Regions from separate parts of the Homo sapiens genome. Here regions 1 and 2 are each linked to region 3. The links come from fine-mapping of genetic effects on gene expression. A gene starts in region 3. Each other region holds a variant in brackets. All regions are shown on one strand. Distances are between the middles of the regions.

Region 1 (4,000 bases), 580 kb before region 3:
GTCCAATCTTAGTTTACACTATAGTTTACAAGTTTCCTTCATAGTCCTAAAAAAGTTAAATAATAACCAAACATATCTTCTTTTTCTGAATATCTTTAAAATATATTTTTTCATTTACAAAGTTAACATATAATTATTAAAAAATTTTTAAACTATAGGAATGTAAGAAGTAAAAAGTGAGCTTCCCATAATCTCAACACACAAAGATGACTTCCCTTAACAGTTCCTATCCTTTCATATTTTTCAGTATGCATAGTTCTGTGTGTATACACATCGTATATGTATTAGTGTTTGTATTCAAACTTTACATAGTGTTCTGTAATCAAATATTCTCAGCAGGTTTTCATGAATTTTTCTTTTACATTAAATAGAGATATACCATGATTTTAAAAATGTTTGGCTGGGCGCGGTCGCTCACACCTGTAATCCCAGCACTCTGGGAGGCCGAGATGGGCGGATCACAAGGTCAGGAGTTTGAGACCAGCCTGGCCAATATGGTGAAACCCCTCTCTACTAAAAATACAAAAATTAGCTAGGCGTGATGGTAGGCGCCTGTAGTCCTAGCTACTCAGGAGGCTGAGGCGGGAGAATCGCTTGAATCCAGGAGGCAGAGGTTGCAGTGAGCCGAGATCACGCCACTGCACTCCAGCCTGGGCAACAGAGTGAGACTCCATCTCAAAAAAAAAAAAAAAAGTTTGTTCATGTGATTATTACTTTTATGTGTTAACTTGAATAGTCCACAAGATGCCCAGATAGCTGATTAAACACTGTTTCTGGGTGTCTCTGTGGGTGGATTTTCATTTGAATTGGTGAACTGCGTAAAGCAGATGGCCAGCCCTAGAATGGGTGAGCATCATCTAATTCACTGAGGGCCTGAAAAAGAACAAAAAGGTGGAGGAAGGTTGAATTTGCTCTCTGCCTAACAGCTTGAGCTGAGACATCAGTCTCTTGCCCTCAGTGCTCCTGGCTCTCAGGCCATCAGACCCTGACTAGAATCTACACCACTGACTACCTGGCTCTCAGGCTTTCAAACTATACCATCAGCTTTTCTATGTCTCCAGCTTGCAGATGGGTGAACATGGGACTTCTCAGACTTCATAATCTCAGCCAATTCCTTAATGTAAATCTCACTTTATATCTATCTATTAATGTCTATCTATCTATCTCTATATGTAGATATGAGAGATATAAGATCTATAGATATCTATATCTACAGAGGAGAGATCCCATTGGTTTGCTTCTCTGGAGAATCCTGGCTAATACTTGTAGTATTGACATTATTTTTTCAAGCACAATGGATTGATAACATAGACTCACGTTTGCAACTTGTTTTTCACATAAAATGTAGTGTGTAAAGTCTTTCTAGATGAAAACATGTATATTTACTTCATTTTGATGCTACACAGTATTCTATTGTATTGATATACCACAATAGAGTGCACTGTCCATTCTTTTCCTGATGGATATTAAGGTCATTTTCAGTGTTCCAAATGACATCCTCTTGATTTATTTCTGTGTACTTACACAAATATAGAGTAGATTTCTGAGTTATTGAGTGTGAACAATTAAAATTTTGATAAGTATCACCAAAGTGCCTTTTGGAGAATGTACATAAATAACAACCTGCTATTAACTCTGGGTATTATCACTTAAATATTTTAGGAAAACAGAGAGGTAAAAATGAGGTAGTGGTTTTAATTTTGTATTTTCATTATTATTAGTGATTTTAGGTAGTATTATATTTATCAACATTTTATTGTTTCTTATCTAAACTACCTGTCCTTATCCACTGCTAATCTAACTTTCAGTTATTTTCCATTTTGTTTACAGATCTCTCTTCTCCTTATGTATAGTAAATTGTTGTTTGTATATTTTCAAAATTTCTTTTAATTTTATTTATAAATCATTCAGTAAACTAATGAGTAAATGAAGGACTGATATAAAATATTAAAAACCGGTAATTAAGTAAGGCATGTTAAGTTCATAATAGGCACATGTACCCAGGCTGCTGCGGGATCATAGAATAGTGGTAGCTAGAGCTAAGTGGAGAGAAAGAGAAGGCCAGCTGCACCAGATGAAACCTGAGCTGTGTTTTAAAATATGACTAGAGGCCAAGTGCAGTGGCTCACACCTATAATCCCAGTACTTTGGGAGGCCGAGGTAGGCAAATCACGTCAGGAGTTCGAGACCAGGCTGGCCAACATGGTGAAACCCTGGCTCTACTAAAGATACAAAAATTAGCCGGGCATGGTGATACGTGCCTGTAATCCCAGCTACTCGGGAGGCTGAGGCAGAAGAATCGCTTGAACCCAGGAGG[C/T]GGAGGTCACAGTGAGCTGAGATCATGCCACTGTACTCCAACCTGGGCAACAGAGTGAAACTTCATCTCAATAATAATAATAATAATAATAATAAAATATGGCTAGAAATTGTTACATCAAAGAAGATGAAGAAGTTGTTCTGGGAAGAGGACGCAGCAATCCAGATGGAAGACAGCAAGGTCTTTTCTGGAAATTACAAGCTGTTCACTTTGCCTAGAGCAAAAGGTACTGTACAGAGAGCTATGACACAGAGAGCTATGAGATGGGGTTACAGAGAGGGAGAGGGGCCATTTATGAATAGCTTGGTATGTTAAGATAATGCATTTAAGCTTTACCCTGAAAAGCTGGGGAGCCATCGATGTGTCTAGATTTGGATTTCAAGAAGACTGGTCTAACACAAATATAAAAATAGTTCAGAAGGAGTCAGTCGGGATGCAGGAAGACCAGGTTGTGTTGAGGCAGACATTAAGTTTTTCATTGTCATAATCATCAGGGCTCAACATAAAATCTTTTAAAATTTCTCTGTAATCGGAATTTAGTGGTAGCTCTGGAAGAATATATACCTGGTGAGTGGGGATGTTTGGGGTAGGGGGACTTTTTCTTCTCTTCTGTACACATTTGTGTATATTCAAGTTTTATTTTTCAATCAATCAGAGACTTTAATACTAAAGCAATATTTTTTAGAAACTGCACCAATAACAGATGAGAAAGATCTGACTTGGAAATTTTTTGTGATAAGTACTGAGTGCTTTGATGGACCATCAAATCAGTCTGAAACCAGATGTGAATATGGTTACTAAAAGCTGGTGTACTAATAGTTGGTTACATTAGTATTTTATGGTATTCTAATAAAGAGTGTTTATCCTCTGCTTTATAACAGTAAAATTGTATCTGGAAACAAAGTTTGTTCACTTTGGTTATCAAAATTGAGATGATCAACTTGGACCATGTTTAGGAGAAAGAACTGTGAGAGAAATGACTTAAAATCATATTAGATAAGGAATCATTAAAGAAAATGGTTATAATCACAAATTGTCAAATTGTACACCTTAAACATATGTAATTTTATTGGTCAACTATACCTTAATAAAGCTGGGGAAAAAAGGAAAATGAGTATGTGTTTAGAGCAGGCCAAGCAAGATATTTGATTTCAGTAAATAAGAATATTTTATTAAATTTCTAATAGAAATAGAAACAAGAAATCGAAGTTGCAAGAGGGCAGATTTTTATATAAAAAAGGAAGAAATCAAATGGATGTCACCTTTTAATGCCTAGAAACTGATATCCCTGATGTTTTTGCCAACTTCTCCTAAACTGGCAAAGACTGCAGTATTCATTCATTAACTAATTGTTATGGCCAGTTGTACATGATGAATTCCATAAAGGCCAGCCATACGTATTTGTTCGCAAATTCATTTAATAAGTTTGCATACATTTTTCTCATTAAACAAAACTAACAGGTTCATTTCTTAAGTTGATTGCATTAGATCCGTTTTCAGGTTTTTAAACTAGTACACTAAGTGGTAGTATTAATAATATTAAATAATTCATTTTTGTCAGTATTACCGAATCTCTTCCCAACTTAGCCATAAATAAGTTCTCCTCTCACATACTCTACATGCATAAGCCTAAGTCGTCACTCTTGTCCCCATTGTCTTTACATTTGCTGAAGTTTTATTGTA
Region 2 (4,354 bases), 49 kb before region 3:
CCAGGCTGGAGGGTAGTGGTGAGATCATAGCTCACTGTAACCTTGAACTCCTGGGCTCAAGCGATCCTCCTCCCTCAGCCTCCAGAGTAGCTGGGATAACAGGTGCATGCCACTATGTCTGACTAGTTTTTTTTTTTAGAGATGGAAGTCTTACTATGTTGCCCAGGCTAGTCTCAAACTCCTGGCCTCAAATGATCCTTCCACCTCAGTCTCTCAAAGTGCTAGGATTAGGCTAGGTGACTAGGAGCCACCACGCCTAGCCTAAATTATTATTTTAATCCTATTCAGTTCTGTTGAATAAAATGTTGATAACATTAATTCTTTATTCCCTAAAGAAATATTATTTACACGCTTTTCTAATATTTCTATTGAGTTTTTCCCATTCCTTTGACAAAAGGATTTCATTGTTGTGGATTTATCAGCATGTCACCATTTTAATTTTTCATAATTATGTTATTCTATTTTATCAAACTTAATGTGAGGTTTGTCTCACATTAAAATACACATGGTATTTTAAACTCATAAAGTGTTTATGAAAATTAATATCATTTTTTGATACCCCCCACCCCACATCAGGCTTTTTCTACTGTCCATTTTCTAGAAACAGTCTGTTTGCCTGTGGCCCTTACCTCAGGAACTGGCCAATGGATTTACAGATGTCCCTTGTGGTTCCCGGGATTAGGCAGTCTGATTCATGAACCACAAGCCACACAGGCTATGCTACTGAACCTGCACTATGCCTTTGCGTAAATAACAGGTGAAGTGTCCTGTGACTGCCAGCATTCTCTTGACTGTCAACATAATTTCCTATGGCTTTAGGCAACAGTGCAGCATGTGAACTTATTTATGCTTCATTCTCAGTTCTAGAACACTACTTCCCTATTCTTCGGTGCACGATATTCAAAGGTCAAGGAGAATAATCACCACTATACTCTGAGCAATATGAACAAATTTTATCCTCCATATTCGCTAACTAGGTCCAAATGAAAAAAAATGGATAGTGAAGGTGAAAATAATATGTTGGTTTTGAAATATTTATTTTATGGAATTAAAAGTATTTTTTAAGAATTGACTTTTCAAAATTCATAGTAACATGAAAAAAATAGGAAGGGACACCAGAACAGAAGCAGAAGCAAATAAAGAAAATGAAAGTGCGCATCACATAAGGGCATCTGTGACATTAGAAAGTAGTGTACATAACAAGAAACAGGGAAGTCGGGTGGATGCAGGCTCCACCAACTGAACAATCAATGATGGCTGAAACCGAGCAGTGCATCGTTAGGCAAAGCAGGATGATTCTTCTGCTGCTATAGAAGAACCTATTGCACTGAAGAGTTTGTAGAAGTCATTAAATGAGAAGGGCAAAGAAATAAGAATAATAAAAGAGTATGCCTCATTGAATATAAGTAATCTAGGATATAACAACCTGCTCACAGGTCATAAATAAACGATAACAACATTTGTCTACACAGAATGAAAAGAGCAGTTCACTGAACCATATAGAGCGAATCTGTATGGCTTTATCAATACCTGCAATTATCTCTCCCTAGCTGGTTGGAAATAAGAAATCATCACACTACAGCTGGCACCCGTTTCCAATATAAATGCCTTTCAGTTGCAATGGAAACTCACTGCATTACTGATTAAGTATGAAATCCCAGAAGACTTGCTTAAAACCTACCTGATGGTATCATGTGCTCAACCCATGGAAAATCAATGGCTCATCTCAATTTCAAGCTGCAAGAGTACTGATGTGCCCAGGCACCATCATGAGGTGGTTTTCTCACTTTCTTGCAACCTTTTTGACCACATCCTGCTTCTCATAGAACATCTAGTGAATAAAGACATGAATTTCAGATCATGTCACTTTGATGTATTTGAGTATAGAGTACTTACTCTGTGCTAAGCACTTTGCTGGACTCACAGCCTATGATAGAGAAGCAGGATATCTGTATTTCAGTCACAAATTTTAAAAGCTTTAAGTGATGCCATTTTTTATATACAAAAAATGTATTTTTAAAAACATCACAGATAGCCAGGTGCAGTGACTCATGCCTGTAATCCCAGCACTTTGGGAGGACAAGATGGGTGGATCACTTGAACCCAAGAATTCAAGACCAGCCTGGGCAGCATAGTGAAATCCTATCTCAAAAAAAAAAAAAAAAAAAAAAAAAAAACACCACACAAAAATTAGCACACGCCTGTAGTCCCAGATATGCAGGAGGTTGAGGTGGGAGGATTGCTTGAGCCCAGGAGATCAAGGCTGCCATGAACCATGATCGTGCCACTGCACCCCAGCCTGGGAAACAGAGTGAGACCCTGTCTCAAATAAACAAAGAAAAAAAAACAAATAGCACAGACAGAGGGAAGGAGGGAAGGAGGGAAGGAGGGA[AGGAGGGAAGGAGGGAG/G]GGAGGGAAGGAGGGAGGGAGAGAGGGAGGGAGGGAAGGAGGAAAGGAGGGAGGGAGGGAGGGAGGGAAGGAGGGAGGGAGGGAAGGAGGAAAGGAGGGAAGGAAGGAAGGAAGGAGGGAAGGAAATCCATTTTAAGTTAGATCCTCAGGGCCTTAACTCCAGGGCTTTTTAGAGAATGCATTTTTTAAAAACAGAAGAAGGGATAAACTGAAGTCCAAGAGAGGTGACCATGGTTCCTACTTGTCTTTTTTTTTTTTTTTCCTGAAGAAAATTATGTCCATTCTAAGGGGGACAGGAAGGTCAGAAACACGGAGATTTCTTGTTGTTGCAGTTTCAGTCTTCCATTATTTTCTTTTACTTTCTCCCCTGTTAAATTTGATTCTCTCTTTCTGACTGGCATGATGATGGCCAGAAAGGCTTTAACTCAACACTTTTGTGTACACAACTCAAGGTGAAGTGCAGCTTCAGTAACTATGCAGTCAGCCTGATTAACGCAGAAGATCAGAGTGGATTTTTGTTGTGCTATCTAACCCCAGACTACACCATAAAACATGACTCACCAAGGCTGTTGAGAATAGCCATGAACCAGGAGTTCTCTCACAAACTCTCTGCATGACTTTGGTCAAGTATTTCAACTTTTCTGAGCCTCAGCTTCCTTTACTGTAAAGAGAAGGGTTATTATAAACAATACCAAAAGCCTTTTCTAGCTTTAAAATTATGTGATTTTTTTTTTTTTTTTTTTTTTTTTTTGAGACAGAGTCTTGCTCTGTCTCCAGGCTGGAGTGCAGTAGCACAATCTAGGCTCACTACAACCTCCACCTCCCAGGTTCAAGCCATTCTCCTGCCCCAGCCTCCCGAGTAGCTGGGACTGTGGGCACCCGCCACCACGCCCAGATAATTTTTGTATTTTTGGTAGAGACGAGGTTTCACATTGTTGGTCAGAATGATCTCAATCTCCTGACCTCGTGATCCACCCACCTCAGCCCCCCAAAGTGCTGGGATTATAGGTTTGAGCCACCGTGCCCGGCCAATTTTTCTTTTTTAAATCTAAATTATATAGTTGTGTGTATCCCTAAGAAGTTTCACTCCTATTCTGGTTTCTATGTGTTAGAATTCAGATTTTCATAATCTGATATTTGGTTTTCTTGCATAATATGGACCAAGCCATGACCTAAAGAGTGTAATTTGTCTTGTGATCCCAAAATGTTAACTTTTTCCTAACTAAACCCTGCCTGGTTTAAGTAGGTAGTCTAAATGTCATTTATTCAATATTCATGAATGACTTCTATCCTAAGAAGAGTGGTTTCTGGCTCTGAAAGCCCCAGTGGGCTTTACTTTGTACACTGCATGTGAAAATCAAACCTGCCCCATGCTATAGACGTTCTAAGGCCACAGACTCCATAACTTGACAGCACCTGTTAGCTGTGTGACCCTAGGCAAGATCTTTAACATCTTCATGCCTTGCTTCTTCTTTCATAAAATGGAGACAATCATACCTACTCCATAGAATAGCATGAGCTGCATAAATAAATGCAAAGGACTTAAACAGGTCCTCGTAGTGTAAGCATTATACAAGGACTTGGTACTGTAAGTTATTTTTTATTTTAAATTAAAATCCTCTACAATGAAATTGTGTCCAGACTTTGCAGGTTCTTGGTCTCACTGATTTCAAGACTAAAGCTGTGGACCCTGACGGTGTGTGTTACAGTTCTTGAAGACGGTGTATCTGAAGTTTGTTCCTTCTGATGTTCGGACCCGTCCGGAGTTTCTTCCACCAGTAGAAGAAACTCCTAGTGGTGGGTTCGTGGACTCACTGACTTCAGGAGTGAAGTTGCAGACCCTCGCTGTGAGTGTTACAGCTCTTACAGGTGGTGCATCTGAAGTTGCTCGTTCCTTCCAGTGGGTTTATGGTCTCACCGGCTTTGGGAGTGAAGCCGCAGACCTT
Region 3 (4,354 bases):
AGTTTCAAATCTGGGACCTGAGACTTATATAACAATAACAGGTCAGAATTTTATAGAAAGGGAACATCTATCTCCATATGGACTATTTTCATTTTATTATTTTGCTGCCTTGGGAGAATCTAGATGAATGTGAGGATATCCTGGGCTGGAGAGAAAAAATGGCTCTTGCCACATGAAGGCAGGCCACAAGATAGGTAGAGAAGTAACATGTCCAAATGAACCCACTATTTTTGTGTCCCCAAATCTGCTGCTCTTTCAATGTTCCCATTCTCAGCAATGGCAGCACTGTCTGCCCAAATGCTAGACTGCCCAAGCCACATGCCTGGGCACCATCCTTGGAGATGAGTCAAGTACAGTAGATTCTATTACCTAGATCTCCCATCCCCAAACACATCTCTCCATCTCCCCTCCACTCTGTCCCCGCACACACTCTCACCACCAAGGCCACTGTCATCCTTAGAGCTGAAACTACAGCAATAGCTTTCTGGCTGGTCTCTCTGTCTTGAGTCATAGTCATAGCCCTCTTCCCCACTCTTGAAGCCAAAAGGCAAGTCTGGTAATGTCATTTTCTTGCTTAAAACTCGGTAATGGCTTCTCATTCTCCTGAGGCTACAGTCCAAACTGTTTAATATGATTTATGTGGATCTGGCCCTTGCTGACCTTCGCAGCTACTTCCTTGAGAGATTAAGAACCCAGACCATGAAGTCAGTTTTGTCTGGGTTCAAATTCCCACTGCCCCACCTATTAGCTTCAAAACTTGAACAAACTTCTGGACCTCTCTGTGCTTCAGTGTTCTCCCGTGTAAAACACGGACGGTCACAATGCCCACCTCACAGGATTGTCAGGAAGACTGAATGAGCTAACACAGGTAGAGTGCTCAGGACGGCACCTGGCACACGGTAAGCATTCTATCAATGTTAACCATGATTTTTATTTCTCCAATTCATTATGCCTTCTCCAGCATTCCGGCCCTTGCATCCACTGTTCTCTCCATCTCAGACACTCTTTCCAACACACTCTGATCATGCTACAAGGTAGTCTTCAGATGTAGGTAACAGCCCCAGCGGCACCTGAAAACTTGTTCAAAAGACAAATGCTCAGGCTCCACCCTAGACCTACTATATTAAAAACTCTAGGGCTCAACTCCAGCAATCTGAAGATTTTTGTTTTGTTTTTTGATAGAGTCTCGCTCTGTTGTCCAGGCAGAAGTGCAGTGGTTCCATCACGGCTTACTGCAGCCTGAACCTCCCGGGCTCCGGCGATCCTCCAGCCTCAACCTCCTGAGTAGCTGGGGCTACAGGTGTACCACGCCCAGCTCACTTTTGTATATTTTATAGAGATGGGGCTTCACCATGTTGCCTAGGCTGGTCTCAAACTCCTAGGTTCAAGCAATCCGCCCGCCCTGTCCTCCCAAAGTGCTGGGATTAAAGGCATCAGCCACTGTGCTTGGCCAGCACTCTGAGTTTTAACAAACTCAGCATTCCTCCATAGGATTCTGATGCCCAGTTAAGGCTGGAAAACCAAGGCACCATCCGTGATAAATTGTACTTAGATGCTTATTTTTCTCTATCCCCTGTTAGGCTCTACGTTCCACAATGGCAGAGAAATGTCCATCTTGGTCTGTTCACCTCCTTTGTAGGTGTTGACAAATACGAGCCATCACAAACTGGAAAGGGGTAAGCTGTATTTCGTAGGACACATCATCTAATTCTGTGCTCCTCTTTTCTGTTTCCCCAAATCAACACCCAGGTATTTCTAAAGGCTTGCCTAAACGTTCCAGCTTGTTCTCAACCTTGAAGCCAGGCTTAGGCCTAAGTTGTAAAGGCGGGAGGGGAGACCCTGGAGGTAGAGGGGCAAAGGCAAGATGCTTGCGTCGCAGGGGCCCTGCATGGCCTGGAGCAGCATAGGGGCCAAGATGGTCTGCGCTCTCCCTAGATTGGAGTTTCTCTCCTTCATCATCTTTGGAGGAAGCACAGATAACTGAGGAAAGTCTGTATCTGCACAGCCACCCGAACTCCTGCCTCCTAATAAACACCTCTGAGGGAGAGGAAACTCTCTCTCTCTCTTCTCTTCCTCCCCAGCACCCCTCGCCCCCCCACCGCCATTTCTCACTCCTCTACTCCCCTCTCTCTCCCTACCCACCTCTGACCCCTCCTCCAGTCCTGCCGCCCGGTAACAAAACCGGGGTTCCCGCCACACGCACCCGGTAGGGCTCAAGACGCTTTATCGGCGACAATGGCTGGCTGAATGGGAGGCCTGAGGTTCTGAAGGAACCGGGGTGCTGGCGACCGGGACCTCGAGGCCGCTGCTGGGGAGGACGCTGGCCAGCGTGCAGGGGGCGGAGGCGGGGCGTGCCGGGAGGCTCCCATCTCCCGCCCCGCACAACCCGGGCAGGGCCGCCGCTCCGCCGCCGCCGCAGATCCGGCTCTCACCCTCGGCTCCCGAGGCCCCGCGGCGCCTCCTTCTGCGGACTCTGCGGGACCCTCCCCGGCAGGCGCTGTGCCCTGGAGAAGGCACAGTGGCTCAGGCATGGCCGCGGGGACGGCGGCGCGGAAGGCAGCGCCGGTGCTGGAGGCCCCCCCGCAGCAGGAGCAGGTACTGGCGCGGGGGCGCGGGCGTGGGGGACGCCAGGCCGGGGTCCCGGGGCTCACGCTGGTGCCGGGCAGGCTGCACAGACTGGTCTCCAAGACCCCGGGCCCCACCGGGGAGAACCGGCCCTGGAAAGACGTGGGGACGGACGCATGACCTTCTGGAAGATGCCACCGTGCGGGGTGCCAGTCCCTCCTCCACTCCCTCCCTCCCCACTTCTGTGCCCTCCCCGCTACCTTCCTTTCCTCCTTCTGATCCTCTTCCTTCGCTCCATCCCTCTTCTCGCATCCTCGCACTTTCTCTTCCAGGCTCACCCCTTCCACTCCCGCCCTCCTTTGTGACCGCCTGTGCCCTCCTCCCTCCTCGGCGGAAGCCCCCAGAGCCCAGGGTCAAGGTCGTAAGCTGCGAGAGAGGGGAAGGGGTGTACTGCAGGCTTTTGGCTAGACCGCCCTGGTTCTCAAACTCGAGTGTCATCAGAATCACTCGGAGGGCCTGTTACCACGCAGACTGCTGGTCTGTGCCCAGGGTTTCTGATTCAAGATGTGTACCCTGATCGTCAGCTTGTCTTGCCTGGTGCTCAACCTAGCCCATTTCTGCTTCTGCTGGCGTCAATTGCAAACCCAATCTTAATTTATTCTTCGTTCATAGGACAATTCTTCTTAGGCTACATCCAGGTACCAGGAGGATTTGGGGGTGGAGGAGGGTAGGTCTTACCTGGAGGAACCCAAATCCCATCCGTAAAACGAGGACAAAAATAACTCTTAAGGGCAAAGATAACTCTTAAACAACAACAAAAATCACTCACAGAGCGGGTAGGAAGAGATTAATGTCCCAAAATAGGTTCAGGCAAAGAACTGTAGGATTTCTGAGAAGGGCTTGCTCCTGACTAACCCCCTTCTCCTCCAACCCGTGAGGGCGTGGCATTCGAGCTGGGTGTTGGGGAATGGACAGGATCTGACCTCATGGGCCAGAGAATTCTAGATGGAGGGAACAACAGTACCAAATGGCTTGGAGATTTTTTTTTTTTTAATATTGGGATGGATGGCCATGGGACAAGGCAGAGAGAGGGGACTGTCCACTCTGACTGCCAGAAACCTAGGGGTCAGGAATGCTTATAGCAAAAAATAAGGGTGGGCTAGGCTGTGGAGGGGCTTGTGTACCACAAAATGGGGAAACTTAAAATGAAACTCCATGACTTTCTTGCTGGTTTCAAACCCAGATTATCGAAAGGGAGGTTCTGAATTGATGAATGCATGCCAGGAGTGTCAGAGGATCTAGTACTGGTGGATTTGCTGCTGATCTTTGCTCTTCCTTAAGGCTGGCATCACTGCCTAGTCTGCTGCCCTCAGGAGGTATGGCCTCTCTGTTGAGGCTGCCCTAGGAGGGACTCACAGCTTTTCCCTTAATCCCATATGGCAAGACAGTGTGGTCCAGGAACCAGCAGCCAAGGCATTACCTGGGAGCCTGTTAAAAATGCAGTCTCAGTTCCCACGCCAGACCCACTGAATTGAAATCCGCATTTTAACCAGATCCCAGGGTGATTCATTTGCACATCAAAGTTCAAGAAGTGCTGGTTTCTTGACTTTACTAGAGCTAGGGATAAGAAAGTGAAAACAGAGATAGTTACTGACCAGCCTATTATCTGATAGCTTCCCTTTGGTTTGAACCTCACCCTATTTTATTTTCCTTCATCACCCTTATCACTACCTGAAGTATGTCTATGTGTGTATTTGATTGTCTAAGAACCTCCTTCAGCATGAAAGCT

Alleles and levels. Alleles are on the strand shown, and positions count from the first base shown. SD is a standard deviation of normalised expression in the study named.
For the expression in rectum of the gene that starts at base 2,368 in region 3, allele C in region 1 goes with a higher level than allele T (large effect, 1.7 SD a copy in CEDAR).
For the expression in CD4 T cells of the gene that starts at base 2,368 in region 3, allele G in region 2 goes with a lower level than allele AGGAGGGAAGGAGGGAG (moderate effect, 0.64 SD a copy in CEDAR).

The links. PIP is the estimated chance that this variant, and not a neighbour inherited with it, causes the effect.
Region 1: its variant is the best candidate, but not a certain one, in a credible set for the expression of RNF175 in rectum (CEDAR, PIP 0.62).
Region 2: its variant is the best candidate, but not a certain one, in a credible set for the expression of RNF175 in CD4 T cells (CEDAR, PIP 0.81).

What each region holds. Positions count from the first base shown.
Region 1 is chr4:154,336,145-154,340,144 of GRCh38, reverse strand. The region is part of intron 3 of DCHS2 (dachsous cadherin-related 2); the gene reads left to right. Among named protein-coding and RNA genes, the nearest start is that of DCHS2, 150 kb to the left of the region's middle. The variant C/T (reference allele first, on the strand shown) is at 2,318.
Region 2 is chr4:153,806,967-153,811,320 of GRCh38, reverse strand. No RefSeq gene overlaps it. Among named protein-coding and RNA genes, the nearest start is that of SFRP2, 20 kb to the right of the region's middle. The variant AGGAGGGAAGGAGGGAG/G (reference allele first, on the strand shown) is at 2,393.
Region 3 is chr4:153,758,038-153,762,391 of GRCh38, reverse strand. It overlaps RNF175 (ring finger protein 175), which reads left to right and starts at 2,368. Exons shown (of 9, transcript NM_173662.4): 1 at 2,368-2,595. The coding sequence starts at 2,530.